Homo sapiens: one gene and its partners. The protein of the gene in region 3 purifies or fractionates together with the protein of the main gene of each other region. This does not show direct contact. Each region holds a gene or a part of one and is shown on either strand. Other genes may lie near its edges.

Region 1 (2,899 bases), on a different chromosome or scaffold from region 3:
AAAGTATAGTGTATGGACACAAAATATGTGTTAGCATTACTTTAACCACAGAAATGCCAGGGTATAAAAAAATGTAAGCATTAAAATAGAATTGTACCTAATAACAACATGTAATAAATATGAGCTCCATGGAGAGAAGTACATTTGTTATCTGCTACTCTTATTCCAGTGTCAGTACGGGGTCTATCACATAGTGGAATTAATGAGGAAACAGACTCAAAAAGGATTTTGGCTTGCTCAAGGTCACACAGCTTGTATGAGGCAGTGCTGCAATTTAAAGCCAGGTATGTCTGCCTTTCATTTATGACTTTTTTTCCTTTTTTTTTTTTTTTTTTTTTTTGAGACAAGGTCTCACTCTGTCTCCCAGGCTGGAGTACATGTACAGTGGAGTACATGGCTTACTGCAGCCTTGACTTCCCAGGCTCATCTGAACCTCCCACCTCAGCCTCCTGAGTAGCTGGACTACAGGCAAGCAACACCATGCAGGGCTAATTTTTTATAGAGATGGGGTTTTGCCATGTTGCCCAGGCTGGTCTCAAGTGATCCACCTGCCTCCCAGAGTGCTGAGATTACAGATGTGAGCCATCTGGCCCAGCCTCATTTATGATTTTCTGTCTTACATTATGCTAATTGATATAGATGACATATCTTCTAGAAGGCACAATATGTGTTTGGTTTATTAGTAGCTTAGTAGCCACCCTCCCCACCCCTGTGCCCCACACAGGTTCTTTGCAGAGAAAGTGTGTGAGTTAATATATTATATATATATTATATTAAGCTATTAAATGCCTTTAAATTATTCTAAATAGAGGTTATAGCAAAGCCTCATGGAGTTATTATAGGTAGAAAGGATCAAGTCCAACTCTTTTATTTTAATGAATAAACTGAGCTGTGTCCTACTTTAAGACAGTGTGATGTTAAAATCCCAATACTTACAAATAATAAATGAAGGGGTAACTTTTATTTACATGGAGGATACTGAAAGATCTTTATTCTGGAAGGAACAGAACAGCCCGTCCAAAAACACAGATACAGACATCTGGGTGTCCTTCAGCTAAATCAACTGGATCATGCTCTGTTATTCTACAGTGAAGCCTACCATTCCACCCACCCCACTCACACACATCTTCCAATGAGCTTTGCAGAGCCTTGCCCATAGAGATGAATGGACATCAAATATAACCAAAACCAAAACACAGATAAGAGCAACTTGGAGGAAACAGAATGCTGGCTCAGACAAAAGATAACTAAAGTAGAGTAAATGGAGAACAAATTAAAAATTCCACAATCTCTGCCCTCAGAGATAAAAGAAAATAATACAGCAAGGGATGGGGAACAGGATGCAGGTGGAGAAAGAGGGAAGAGGAGGAGCACAGGAAGGAGAGAGGAGAAGAAGAGGGGATGAAGGAGAGGGAGAGAGGAGAAAAAGGGAAAGGGGGAAAGGCAGTGATGCCAGGGAAGGAGAGGGGATGGGTTGGATTGAGGAGGAGGAAGAAAAACCATCAGAAAACAAGATGAGCTCTTAGAAAGTAAAATTTTAGTCAACAAAATTAAAATGCAATAGAAAGGTAGGAAAAAGAAGGTGAGTCGATCTCCTAGAAGGTGAAAAGAATTATACAAATATATGTGTAATAGGAGAAATGAGTGATTAAATCAGATGATCTTTTTCTCCAGAAAGTCAGAAGAGAGAAAACTGAGAGAACTATCAAAGAAATAATATAAGAACTTTTCAAGGGGCTGGGAAAATGACATTTACCTTTTATCACTGTGAAATATCAGACTACCACAGAGAAATATGTCTCTGATTTCAAAAACTTTCAGAAAGGACAGGGGTAGATAGAAAAGATTAAGACGAACAACATCAAATTCTCAACGATAATCTTAAGATGATAAAGCAATGGCTTCAAAATTCTGAGGGAAAATGAATTGCAACCTGGAAATCTCTACCCAGACAAACAATCAAGAGAGTTGGTAGAATAATAGTAGTTTCAGATACACACAAAAATTATCTCTAATGTATCCTTTCTCATGAAACTACTGGACAATGTGTGCCACCAAATTGAAGATGTAAAGGAAGAAAGAAGACATGGGATCCAGGAAACAGGAGATTCAGTGCAGGAGAGAGTTAAATTTCTAGGACAACAGCTGTGTAGCAGGCTTAATGAGCTTCAGGTCTAGATTATAACATGAAGACAAAGGGCTCCGGGGAAAAAGTGGACTGACACAAGCTGATACATTTGACAACGTAGAAAACTGCATCAAGAAGCTGTGGGAAGAGTACAGGAAGACTTTGCTTAGTGTCATGGACTGAATGTTGGCATTCCCCACAAACTTCATATCTTGAAGCTCTTGCCCTCAGTGTGATGGTCTCAGGAAGTGGGGCCTTGGGAAAATAATTTGGTTTAGGTGAAATCATGAGGATGGAGCCGGAATGATGGGATTAGTGCCCTTATAAGAAAAGGAAGAGAAACAATTTAGTGGCATTTAAGTCCAGGTACAATGTTGTGTACCACCACGCAACACGTGGTATCTATCTAGTTTCAACCATTTTCATCATCCCAAAATGAAACCCTCAGGGATTCAGCATTAGCAGCTCCCCCTGCCTCCAGACTCTGGCAACCACCAACAGCTCTCTGTGTCTATGGATGCACCTATTCTAGATATTTAATATAAAAGGATTTCTACAATATGTGATCTTTGGTGTCTGGCTTTTTTCATTTAGCATAATGTCCCATGGTGTAGCATGTATTAGTACTTCATTCCTTTTTATGGCTGACTGCTATTTCATTATATGTATATACCACACTTTGTTTATCCATGCATCCCTTAATGGACATTTAGGTTGTTTCTGTCTTTTGCCTATTGTGAATAGCGCTGCTGTGAATATGCATGTACATTT
Region 2 (3,500 bases), on a different chromosome or scaffold from region 3:
GTGGACCTGCCAGGCAGATGCGTCCCCCACTTCCACTGCCTTGTGTGAACTCATTCAATTCCAGGCCAGAAGTTCAACATGGCCCAGGCACAGGAGGGTCTGGGTTCCTTCACGTGCTGCTGTCCAGCAGGCTCATGGCAGATGTACGGAGCCATCTGTGGTACCTGCACATCCTCATGTGGCCAAGCCCATCCAATGGAGTCAACAATCGATGGCTCTGAGCAGGCTCCCTGGACTCCCACCACCTTCACCCATCAATACTTCCGATGCTCCTTACACGGTCCTGGCCACACCGGCAGAAAAGGATCCCTTCCCTCCTGCAAGGGCTCCACGGCAGTGCCTCTGTCCATGGCCAGAAGGAAGGGCTTCCCAGCTTAGGCTGCCGATGGTCAACATTATACCAGCCGCCCCGGGACTCTGCACTTTCAACGGGCAGCAGCTCGTTTGGTTTGGAGGAAATGAACAGGAGTTTCCGGCTGGAGAGAACCTAGGCTGCCTGGGTGACTCCCAATAAGCTGGGCAAGAAGGAGGAGGGCAGAGGTGACAAAGGAACTTAGCACAAACCGGGCCCACCTTCCCTGCAATGCAGTCATGCCTCTGGCTTTTGCAAAAGCTCATGCTCTCCAGGGTGCCAGGGATGGCTCAAGTTCACCTTCCCAGGAACGTGGATAATCACAGCCTCCCAGAGGGAAAGGAGCTGCCTGGGCAGCCTGGGACCCTGCTTCTGTGAAGGGAACACAGACTGTGTTCCCTCCTCACTCCCCAGCAGGCCAGGTTTGGGCTGTGGGGAAAGAATATGAGGCACTCTGGCCGGGGCATGCGTTCTGATGACCACAGGCTTGGCCTTTGGGGAGGGAGGGGTTCAAAGACCCCATGAGGGCATCCAGCTCCTGTAGTTTTCTACTCTGACAACCTTCTAAACGGATCCACATACATCTAGTTTCAGTACTTGGAGGTATTCTAAAGGCAGACATACTTTATCTGAGCAGGTGCTTTTGGCGTGGTCCTGCCAAGAAAGAAACAATGGCTTAGATGACGTCTATTCTAAGGCCTCAAGGCTTGCACCCCTGCCATGCTAAATACAGATGCGCTCCTCCACCAAGAGAATCCCCTCTGCCCTCTGCCATCTCAGCCCCGAGCCAGCTCAGCTGCCCATGACCTGTGTGCAAAGCAGGGGGCGGGACAAACAGCTATCGCCTTTGGCCTTCCCTTTGCTCCTGACAGCGGTCTCAAACCTGGAGGAGTCAAAGGTCCAAGATGCCTTTGTTCACTATGAACCTGGTGTCAGCTCTAGCGTCCTCAGCAGCAGGGCAGCGTGGAGCAGGGCCAGCCCTCTGGCACTTGTGTGGCTGTGGTTTGCATGCTGAGGACTTGTTTCCTGGCTGTGAGCAAGGCAACTCATTTTAACTTTTAAGCATTAATTCATGCAAGATTTTTAAAAAATAGGGTCCTACACTTCTGTTGCACCAACTTTGTTGTTGTTTTTGTTTGTTTTATGAAGACAGGTTCTTGCCCTGTCGCCCAGGCTGGAGTGCAGTGGTGCAATCACAGCTCATTGCAACCTTGGCCTCCCAGGCTCAAGTGATCCTTCCGCCTCAGCCTCCCACGTAGCTGGGACTACAGGTGTGCAGCACCACAGCCAGCTAATTTTTTAATTTTTTGTAGTGATGGGTCTTGCTATGTAGTCCAGGCTGGCCTTGAACTCCTGGGCTCAAGTGATCCTTCCGCCCTGGCCTCCCAAAGTATTGAGATTACAGGTGTAAGCTACCGTGCCTGGCCAATCACCAAATCTGTGAACTGTGCTGAGTAATCTTATGTTAACAGTGTGAAAACTGGACTGTGCTGAGGTGGAAACCATGCTGTCCAACAACGAAATGGATGGAGTAAAGTGACTACCAAATTCTTAGATGTGGTAAAGCAGTAGTCCCCAACCTTTTTGGTACCAGGAACTGGTTTCATGGAAGACAATTTTTCCATGGGACAGGAGTAGGGGAATGGTTTCAGCATCAAAGCATTCCACCTCAGATCATCAGGCTTTAGATTTTCATAAGGAGAGCTCAACCTAGATTCCATGCATGTGCGGCTCACAACAGGGTTTGTGTTCCTGTGAGTCTAATGCCACCACTGATCTGACAGGAGGCGGAGCTCAGGCAGTAAAGCTTGCCTGCCCGCTGCTCACCTCCTGCTGTGTGGCCAGGTTCCTAACAGGCCACAGACCGGTACTGGTCCGAGGCTGGGGGGTTGGGGACCCCTGCACTAGAGGGTACCGACTGTGGGATCATGGGATTGGAAACTCAGGAAGGACCTTGAGGAAAACAGTGCGAAGATCATTTCTGCACCCCCCTAAAGGGGCAGGTCCAGAGCCTTCCAGAATGCAGATTCTGTCCCCTCCTCACTCCCTTCTAGACTGTGCCCGATTTCCGCCCTAAGTGTTTCATTTCCAGAATCAAAGAGGGCTCTTTTTCCCTCCAACACTATAAAAAGCTTTTTTTTTTTTTTTTTTTTTTTTTTTTTGGAGACAGGATCTCACTCTGTCCAGGCTGGAGTGCAGTGGTACGATCTTGGCTCACTGCAACCTCTACCTTCTGGGTTCAAGTGATTCTCCTGCCTCAGCCTCCCAAGTAGCTGGGACTACAGGCATGTGCCACCATGCTAATTTTTGTATTTTTAGTAGAGACGAGATTGTACCATGTCGGCCAGGCTGGTATCGAACTCCTGATCTAAGGTGATCTGCCCACCTTGGCCTCCCAAAGTGCTGCGATTACAGGTGTGAACTACTGCGTCCAGCCCATAAAAAGCTTTTTTAAATAGAAAAAGCCCTGAGTGCACACAGCATTATTTGGCTTGGTTTTCTTCCTTTTCGTCGACTTACCTGAACATGGGTGGGCTGCTGCTACCCTCAGGCTGTGCTGTCTGCAGCCGCACAGCCTGAAGCAGGAGCTGGGGGCCAACCTCCATCTTCACAGCACACTGCTTCAAGTGACTGGTTCTGCTCTTTAAGGTAAGAAACGGTTTCCCACAAATCGGGCACTCAGGGATCTGAGGCACAGAAGGTCTTAGTGTCTTTTCAGCTTCATCCAAGCACCTGAAGGAAAACAGTCAATACAGGAGAACCACCCTCCCCAGGAATGTGGATTGGAGCAAATGTGGGTCCAGGTCAACACAGACGTGCTGTGGTCAAAGCAAGTTCCCCAAAGCCAATCCCCTCTACACAGCCTGGCTCCGTCTCCCGGCAGTCAGCCCCTAGACACTACACTTAGGTATCTGTCAGCAAAGTTGGCTAAAGAAAGCAAGGAAAGATTAAATGCAGTTACATGATGACTTAGAAATTCCACTCCTAAGTAGAGACCCCAAAGAACTGAAAGCAGGTACCCAAACAAATACATGAAACCCATGTTCACGGCAGCTCTATCCACAATCCCAAAGGGTAGAAATGCTCCAAATGTCCGCCAATGGACGAAAGGATAAACCATGGTCATATTCCTCATCTAAGAATGGGA
Region 3 (3,500 bases):
TGCATAGCAAGATAAATTAAAGAGGGCAATGCAGCACACTGGTTATGTGCTTGGGCTCTGGAGCCAGGCTGCCTGTGTTGAAATCATAGCTCTCCTATTTACAAGCCATGTGATCTTGGGCAAGTTATGTAATCTCTCTGTACCTCAAAGAACTTAACTACTCTGTACAAATGAGTTTCTCGATGTATATTATGAAGGTGAGAGCACTTACATGTCATAGGATTGTTATGAAGATTGCATTAGTAGATATAAAGTGCTTGGAACAGTGTCCGGCTTTTACAAGTGTTATATAAACATATGCTAATATTATTATTATTATTTGCATAACCTTTTTGAGCCTTAGGTTTCTTTATCTGACAAATGAGGTTATCAACACGTTCCCTGCTACCTTGTAGATGATTATAAAGATCAAATAATGAAGCTTGGGTCTTTATATTATCTGGTTATATTAATCCCTGAAGACTTTGAGCTTCTTGAAAACAAATCTAGTAGCTTACCTGTTTTTGGAATCCCAGCACAGTGTAGGCACTGACAAACAGTCGTCGTCACTTATGCCCTTGAATGCACTTTTTAAAGCTGCTAAGTACTGTACCCATGAACACGGTAGTGCTATTATCATGGCAACAAGAGCCAATCTTAGAAAAGTCCTTTGGCAGTCTGGACAGAATGGAGAGGAAGGTGTAGGGATGAGATCAAAAGCAAGGGGATCAGTGGGAGCTACAGCAATGGTACAGCTACAAAATAAAGAGGCCCTGAATTTGAACAGAGAAGATAGGACATACATGCTCCATGGCCGTAGAAGGGTTTCACTGATCCACCTCTTTTGCCACATCCAATTCAGGCTGATGGTGTCTCTCCTATCTGCCCATAACAGGTACTTAATTGAACTAACTAGAAACTTTATCAGGAAAGTGAAGCTGCAGGATGAAGTCAGGAATGACCAAAAAGATGGATTCAGTTATAAGAACTGGTGAGTTCTAGGTCAGCAGAGTTTGAAATATCTTTGAGACAGACAAGTTGAGTCTTCCAGCTCAAACTAAACAGCTAAAAGTGCAGGGCTAGAGCTTGAGACAGCCACCCAGGCTGAGGAGTGTTAAGGAGCCAATACCCATTAAGGGGGCAGGTAGTGCGGCAGGAACTGGAGGGAGGAGACAATCTCAGGCACAGCCTTGGGGGACACTAACCTTCCAGGTGTCCAGGCAGAATGAAGAGAAGCCCACAAGGCACAGCACTATTCACAGTAGCAAAGACAGGAAACCAACCTAGGTGCCCATCAATGGTGAATTGCATAAAGAAAATGTGGTATATATCCACCGTGGAATACCTTGCAGATATAAAAAGAACAAAATCATGTCCTTTGCAACAACATGGATGCAGCTGGAGGCTATGATCCTAAGTGAATTAATGCAGGAACAGAAAACCAAATATCACATGTTCTCACTTATAAGTGGGAGCTAAACAATGGGTACTCATGGACATAAAGATGGCAACAATAGACACTGGGGACTACTAGAGGGAGGAGGGAGGGGAACAAGGGTTGAAAAACTAATTATTGGGTACTATGCTCAGTACCTGGGTGATGGGGTCAACTGTACCCCAAGCCTCAGCATCATGCAATATATCCAGGTAACAAATCTGTACATGTACCTCCGGAATCTAAAATAAAAGTTGAAATTATTTTTTAAAATGTACATTTAAAAAAAAAGAAAGTAAGACCCTTTGTTAGATTCAGAAAAAGTGAAAGATTTCTAGATTTTTGCTAAAGTAATGCTTCTCAAAAGGTGCAGCATTAGTGCTGGACCTACATATACCTGACCTGTACAGGGAAGGGAAAAACACTACATTTTTGGCCAAAATTCCTCATTGGTAAACTAGTACATTCTGTTTTGAAGATTAGGGTAAAGTGTACTATCATTCTATATGCATATGTCATGCTGCTAAACACTAAAATAAAAATATATCTTTGCTGGGAAGAAAGAAGACGAAAGAAGAAAGAAGAAGGAAGGAGAAGGAGGAGGAAGAAGGAGGAAGGAAGGAGGAGAAAGGATGAAGGACGAAGAAGAAGGAAGAAGAAGAAGAAGCCTGCAAAGGAGAATAAAGGGGTAATATGAGATGCTAGAGGCCAATAATGAGAGGGGACATCATGAAAGCAGATGGCGAGAAAGAAAGGGTAGGACACAGGGTCATGTGAGGCCAGAAATGAGGACAAGCCAACAGGTTTAGAACTGAGGTTACTGGTGACTTTTAGGAGAAGGACATTTAATTTAGTTCATTTCACCCAATTAGAGGGTCTGTCTGGTTAAACAGGCCATGAAAATAGAGTTTGCTCAGTAGCTGTTAAATACTTTGCTAAAGGAATTGTATCACTACACAAAGGCATATCCCCCTCCTTACCTCCAAGCAGAACCAACACATGTCTCAGCGTCACACATTCCTCTGTTGCAAGGTCCACCCTAAGGCAAACCCACAGAGTCTTATGAGGAAATCTGTAGGTGTTTATGAGGCAGCAAATGCCAACCAGAGAGGAGGAAGCGCTCAGCAGGAATGCCATAATAGATAATCCTCACACATAGTGGAGAACAAAGGGAGGAATGGTTCCCTCTAAGAATTCATCAAAAGCAGAGACTGGTCATGGGACTAAAGGTCTAAGAGACCAAAGCACAGAGGAGTCAGAGCTCCTCGGACAATCTTCTAAAAGAACTCAATATCCAAAAAAGACCTGCTCCCTGACTTTTTTACGCTACATATCACCTTTCAACTCTCCCCACACCTTTCCAACCCTCTATTTGCTGTGAAGCCATATGACCTAAGCCAGGGAACACTGGCACCACATGGCCCTGGATGAGGTTAGCCCAGGAGAGGGCTCTGAGACCAGGTTTGCTCTTTGTAATGCTTCCCTCCTCCAGCACCTTCTCTGATCACAAAAAACCACTGAGACTCTGCAGGAGACAAATGGAGCTTTCAGTCAAGTTTGGGATTAAAACCTCTATTCCAGGATTATCACAAAACTGTATAAACTTGATGCCTAAGCACCCTGGAGACACCAGGCAGGACTAAGACAAAGCTGTCAAGAAAGAAGAGAAATTTGGAGAAACCCCTACATACCCCTCCTTTGAACTGACACACCAGGGACTTTAACTTAATCTCACTGCATTCCATTCTTACTCCAAGAAGGAGCCAGCAGGTCTCTTGAAGCAATGTGCACCAAAATAACAGTGGTTGTCAAGCTTTCAAAAATCCTGAGGCTCAGGCCACACCCAAGTCCAATTCAATCATGATCTCTGGAGGGAGACCCAGGCATCAGCAGTTTTTTATACCAGTCCAGAAGACTTCAGTATGTAGGGAATCACTGGCCTAGAGCAGTGCCAAAAGCAAAGGCATTCATGGGAATTTGGACCAATAACAAATGTTTCTGGGACTCCATTTCTAGGACTCTCCTGGTAAAAGGGGACAGGACTGAGGAAGGAAAGAGTAAAGATCATTGTGTTAACATAAATTCC
Region 4 (2,569 bases), on a different chromosome or scaffold from region 3:
AGCCAGGGACTTTCCCCTGGGTGGCACGCTGGGGAGTGGTGTCAGAGCCAGGATTTGAACCTGGACTCTCTGACCTTGAGACCCCTAACCATTCCCATCCCAAAGGAGACAAAGGAGATCAGTCTCACGGAGGGGACACTGAGGATGGCCCCAGGGCTCGGGAGTGACTATGGTTCCACATACAGACGAGGGAAGAGGCAGGATCCCCGGGTCACTGTTGGGGGAGCACTGGTGTGGGAAGCAGATGGAGGGGGGCCATACCCAGGGGCCACTCGGTGGGCCCACTGACCTGTGAACCTGGAGAAGAGGGGCATCTGGGTGGGAGCTGAAGGGCCGTGGGTCAGCCAGCACAGGGCACACCCGAACTGGGTGTCCCCTCGTGGGCTCCCGGGACCTGGCACAGGCTTACCTCGGAGGGAAGAGGTCCCCATCCCCTGGCACTCTATTACTGGGCTGTGGGCTGCTCACAAGTCATACACCATCACCCCTACACCAGCACATCGCAATGATCCCACTTCATTTATTACCAAAATATCACAGAATTCCAGTCATAGTTAACATACAGCGTTTAACACGAACCTGATACCTGTAGAAAGAACTGAGTATCGGGACAATTGAGTCGTTGGAACTGTAAGCCACGCCCCAAACCGCATCACTCCGTACTTCAAAAATACGATTTTTTGAGAGCTTTGGAAACTGAATTAAAATGTCTACACAGCTATGAACAATTGTTTAATAAAACTTTTTCATGTTTCCATTACATGTAAATATATCAATTTGGCATCTCTATAAAAACTCTGAAAATGGTGCAAAAGTTTCATTCTCTTTGAGAAAGCCATTGACAAAAAATATTCACACTTCACTAAAATTTTGAAAAATGGTCTTCTTTCAAAGCTTCTTTATTAATCTGAAGTCTTCTGGGTTATCAAAATCTAGGTTTGCTTTTTCCTCCTAAAACACTAAAGAACATTTATTCACAAGGATTAAAAAAAAAAAATAAAAAGGCAATGGGCTGATGGAAAACTGATAAGGGCTTTTCTTTTTTTTTTTCTGAAAATAATTTAAAAAGCTTAAAAGTTACATAGGCATCTTCAAAAGAACACAATGGGATTCATTTTATTGTTGACTTTTGGACACCAGTGTCAGACTTTATTGAAAACAAACCCATGTAAAAACAAAGTTAAAATGAAAAATGGCACCTGAAAAATAAATTATTTTATATAAAACAAATCAATAACTTAAAACACACTAATATACAAAAGGTCTAACCATCTACTGTACAACATGGGAATCGGTTAAGAGAGCCTCCCCTCCCCCAAAGCAAGTCACTGTAAACGGAACATCACATGGTCATGGTCAAAGAGGTGGCCCCAAACCAACGGAAAAGGCTTCTCTTCTGGTGGAAGAAAAATCCAGTCCTGTCAAAGTCTCCGTTAGCCTAACTTAGGTACTGGCGGTGACTTACAAGTGAGAAAAAAAAAATTTGTTTTTTTAAATGGCCAAGAAAGAAACCTGAACGATGTCACTGAAAGGTTGTAGAAAAATAGGATCCAGCCATTAGAGGTCAGGGGAAATCAAAAAGGTTTGGAAATGTGAACCCTGCCTGGGATCCGAGATTCAGATTCTACTGCCATCATTACACGCCAATTGCCAATGCCACTTAAAAGAAAGCACTTGTGACTTCAGGGCTGTCTTGCGAAGTTTGGGGACAGGAACCCCTGACCCCCAGAGTCAGCTAAACCCCAGGGGTCTCTGCTAAGGAGCTGCCTCAGGTCCTAGTAGGTGAGGTAGGTCTGGGGAAGATGGGAGGGGATTGAGGTGGAGGGTGGGGTGGAGGGACAGGATAGAGGCCTCCTGTCAGCTGAATTCTTATTCTCTTTCATCCAACACAGGAAGGCTGCGAAAAGCACATGGAAATAAAAGGGGGCTGAATCGGATGTGAAATGTAACAGCTGAGTGATGTCAATTTCGATTTTTCAAGTCCGATGCCGGACTGGGTAAGTCATGTCTTTTCAATGCCTGGTGGACAAATGGCCTTCATTTGGAAGCAAACCGGGTCAAGGAATTGCCACTAACCGTCTTCGGGTGCTTCTATTTCTCTGATCCAGCAGGGACCCCTGGGCTGCCGGCTCCAAAGGGCCGGTCTTGGCTCCCAACAGCAGCACGGTTCAGTCCCTGGAGGCTGGGTCTCCAGGACTAAGGCCAAGCGCAGACTCTCAGAGGTTAAGGCAGCTGCCCTTGGCCAGGAAAAGGCTCACCTTCCAGGAGAAGGTGGCGGAACCCACCCAGCACCACCTGCGGGCGGGCCCCCGAGGAAGCCCATGAATTTCAGGATATTCACGCAGGATGGTGGCCGGGGAGGGGACTCAGCACCCGGGAGGGAATCAGTCACAGAGCTGCGACTAGAGGCACAGCCAGCACAGAAAACTGCGGCTTGGCAAATTACACTGAAAACGAAATAATGGCAGAGCCAAGGGGGAACAAGGGAGAATTCATCAGGAAGCAGGTTCACAAATTCGGAGCTGCCTGGGGTCTAACTACCAGAGGAAGTTACACACGGGTCAAAAGG

What was found. The genes of interacting proteins can lie anywhere in the genome.
Region 1: the proteins of SLC25A13 (region 3) and HSDL2 purify together in Homo sapiens (affinity purification with mass spectrometry; one large-scale study listed by BioGRID and IntAct). This does not show direct contact.
Region 2: the proteins of SLC25A13 (region 3) and SLX4 purify together in Homo sapiens (co-immunoprecipitation; one large-scale study listed by IntAct). This does not show direct contact.
Region 4: the proteins of SLC25A13 (region 3) and ELAVL1 fractionate together in Homo sapiens (co-fractionation; one large-scale study listed by BioGRID). This does not show direct contact.

Annotation. Positions count from the first base shown.
Region 1 is NC_000009.12:112,467,108-112,470,006, reverse strand, and holds part of HSDL2 (hydroxysteroid dehydrogenase-like protein 2), read right to left. Parts: intron 285-2,899; exon of another isoform or gene 170-284; intron 1-169. UniProt on the Homo sapiens protein: Has apparently no steroid dehydrogenase activity. Controls bile acid (BA) and lipid metabolism in response to nutritional cues.
Region 2 is NC_000016.10:3,598,107-3,601,606, forward strand, and holds part of SLX4 (structure-specific endonuclease subunit SLX4), read right to left. Parts: intron 3,086-3,500; coding exon 2,873-3,085; intron 1,383-2,872; exon of another isoform or gene 55-1,382; coding exon of another isoform or gene 1-54. UniProt on the Homo sapiens protein: Regulatory subunit that interacts with and increases the activity of different structure-specific endonucleases.
Region 3 is NC_000007.14:96,312,099-96,315,598, forward strand, and holds part of SLC25A13 (electrogenic aspartate/glutamate antiporter SLC25A13, mitochondrial), read right to left. Parts: intron 1-3,500. UniProt on the Homo sapiens protein: Mitochondrial electrogenic aspartate/glutamate antiporter that favors efflux of aspartate and entry of glutamate and proton within the mitochondria as part of the malate-aspartate shuttle.
Region 4 is NC_000019.10:7,958,073-7,960,641, forward strand, and holds the end of ELAVL1 (ELAV-like protein 1), read right to left. Parts: 3' UTR 501-2,569; downstream 1-500. UniProt on the Homo sapiens protein: RNA-binding protein that binds to the 3'-UTR region of mRNAs and increases their stability.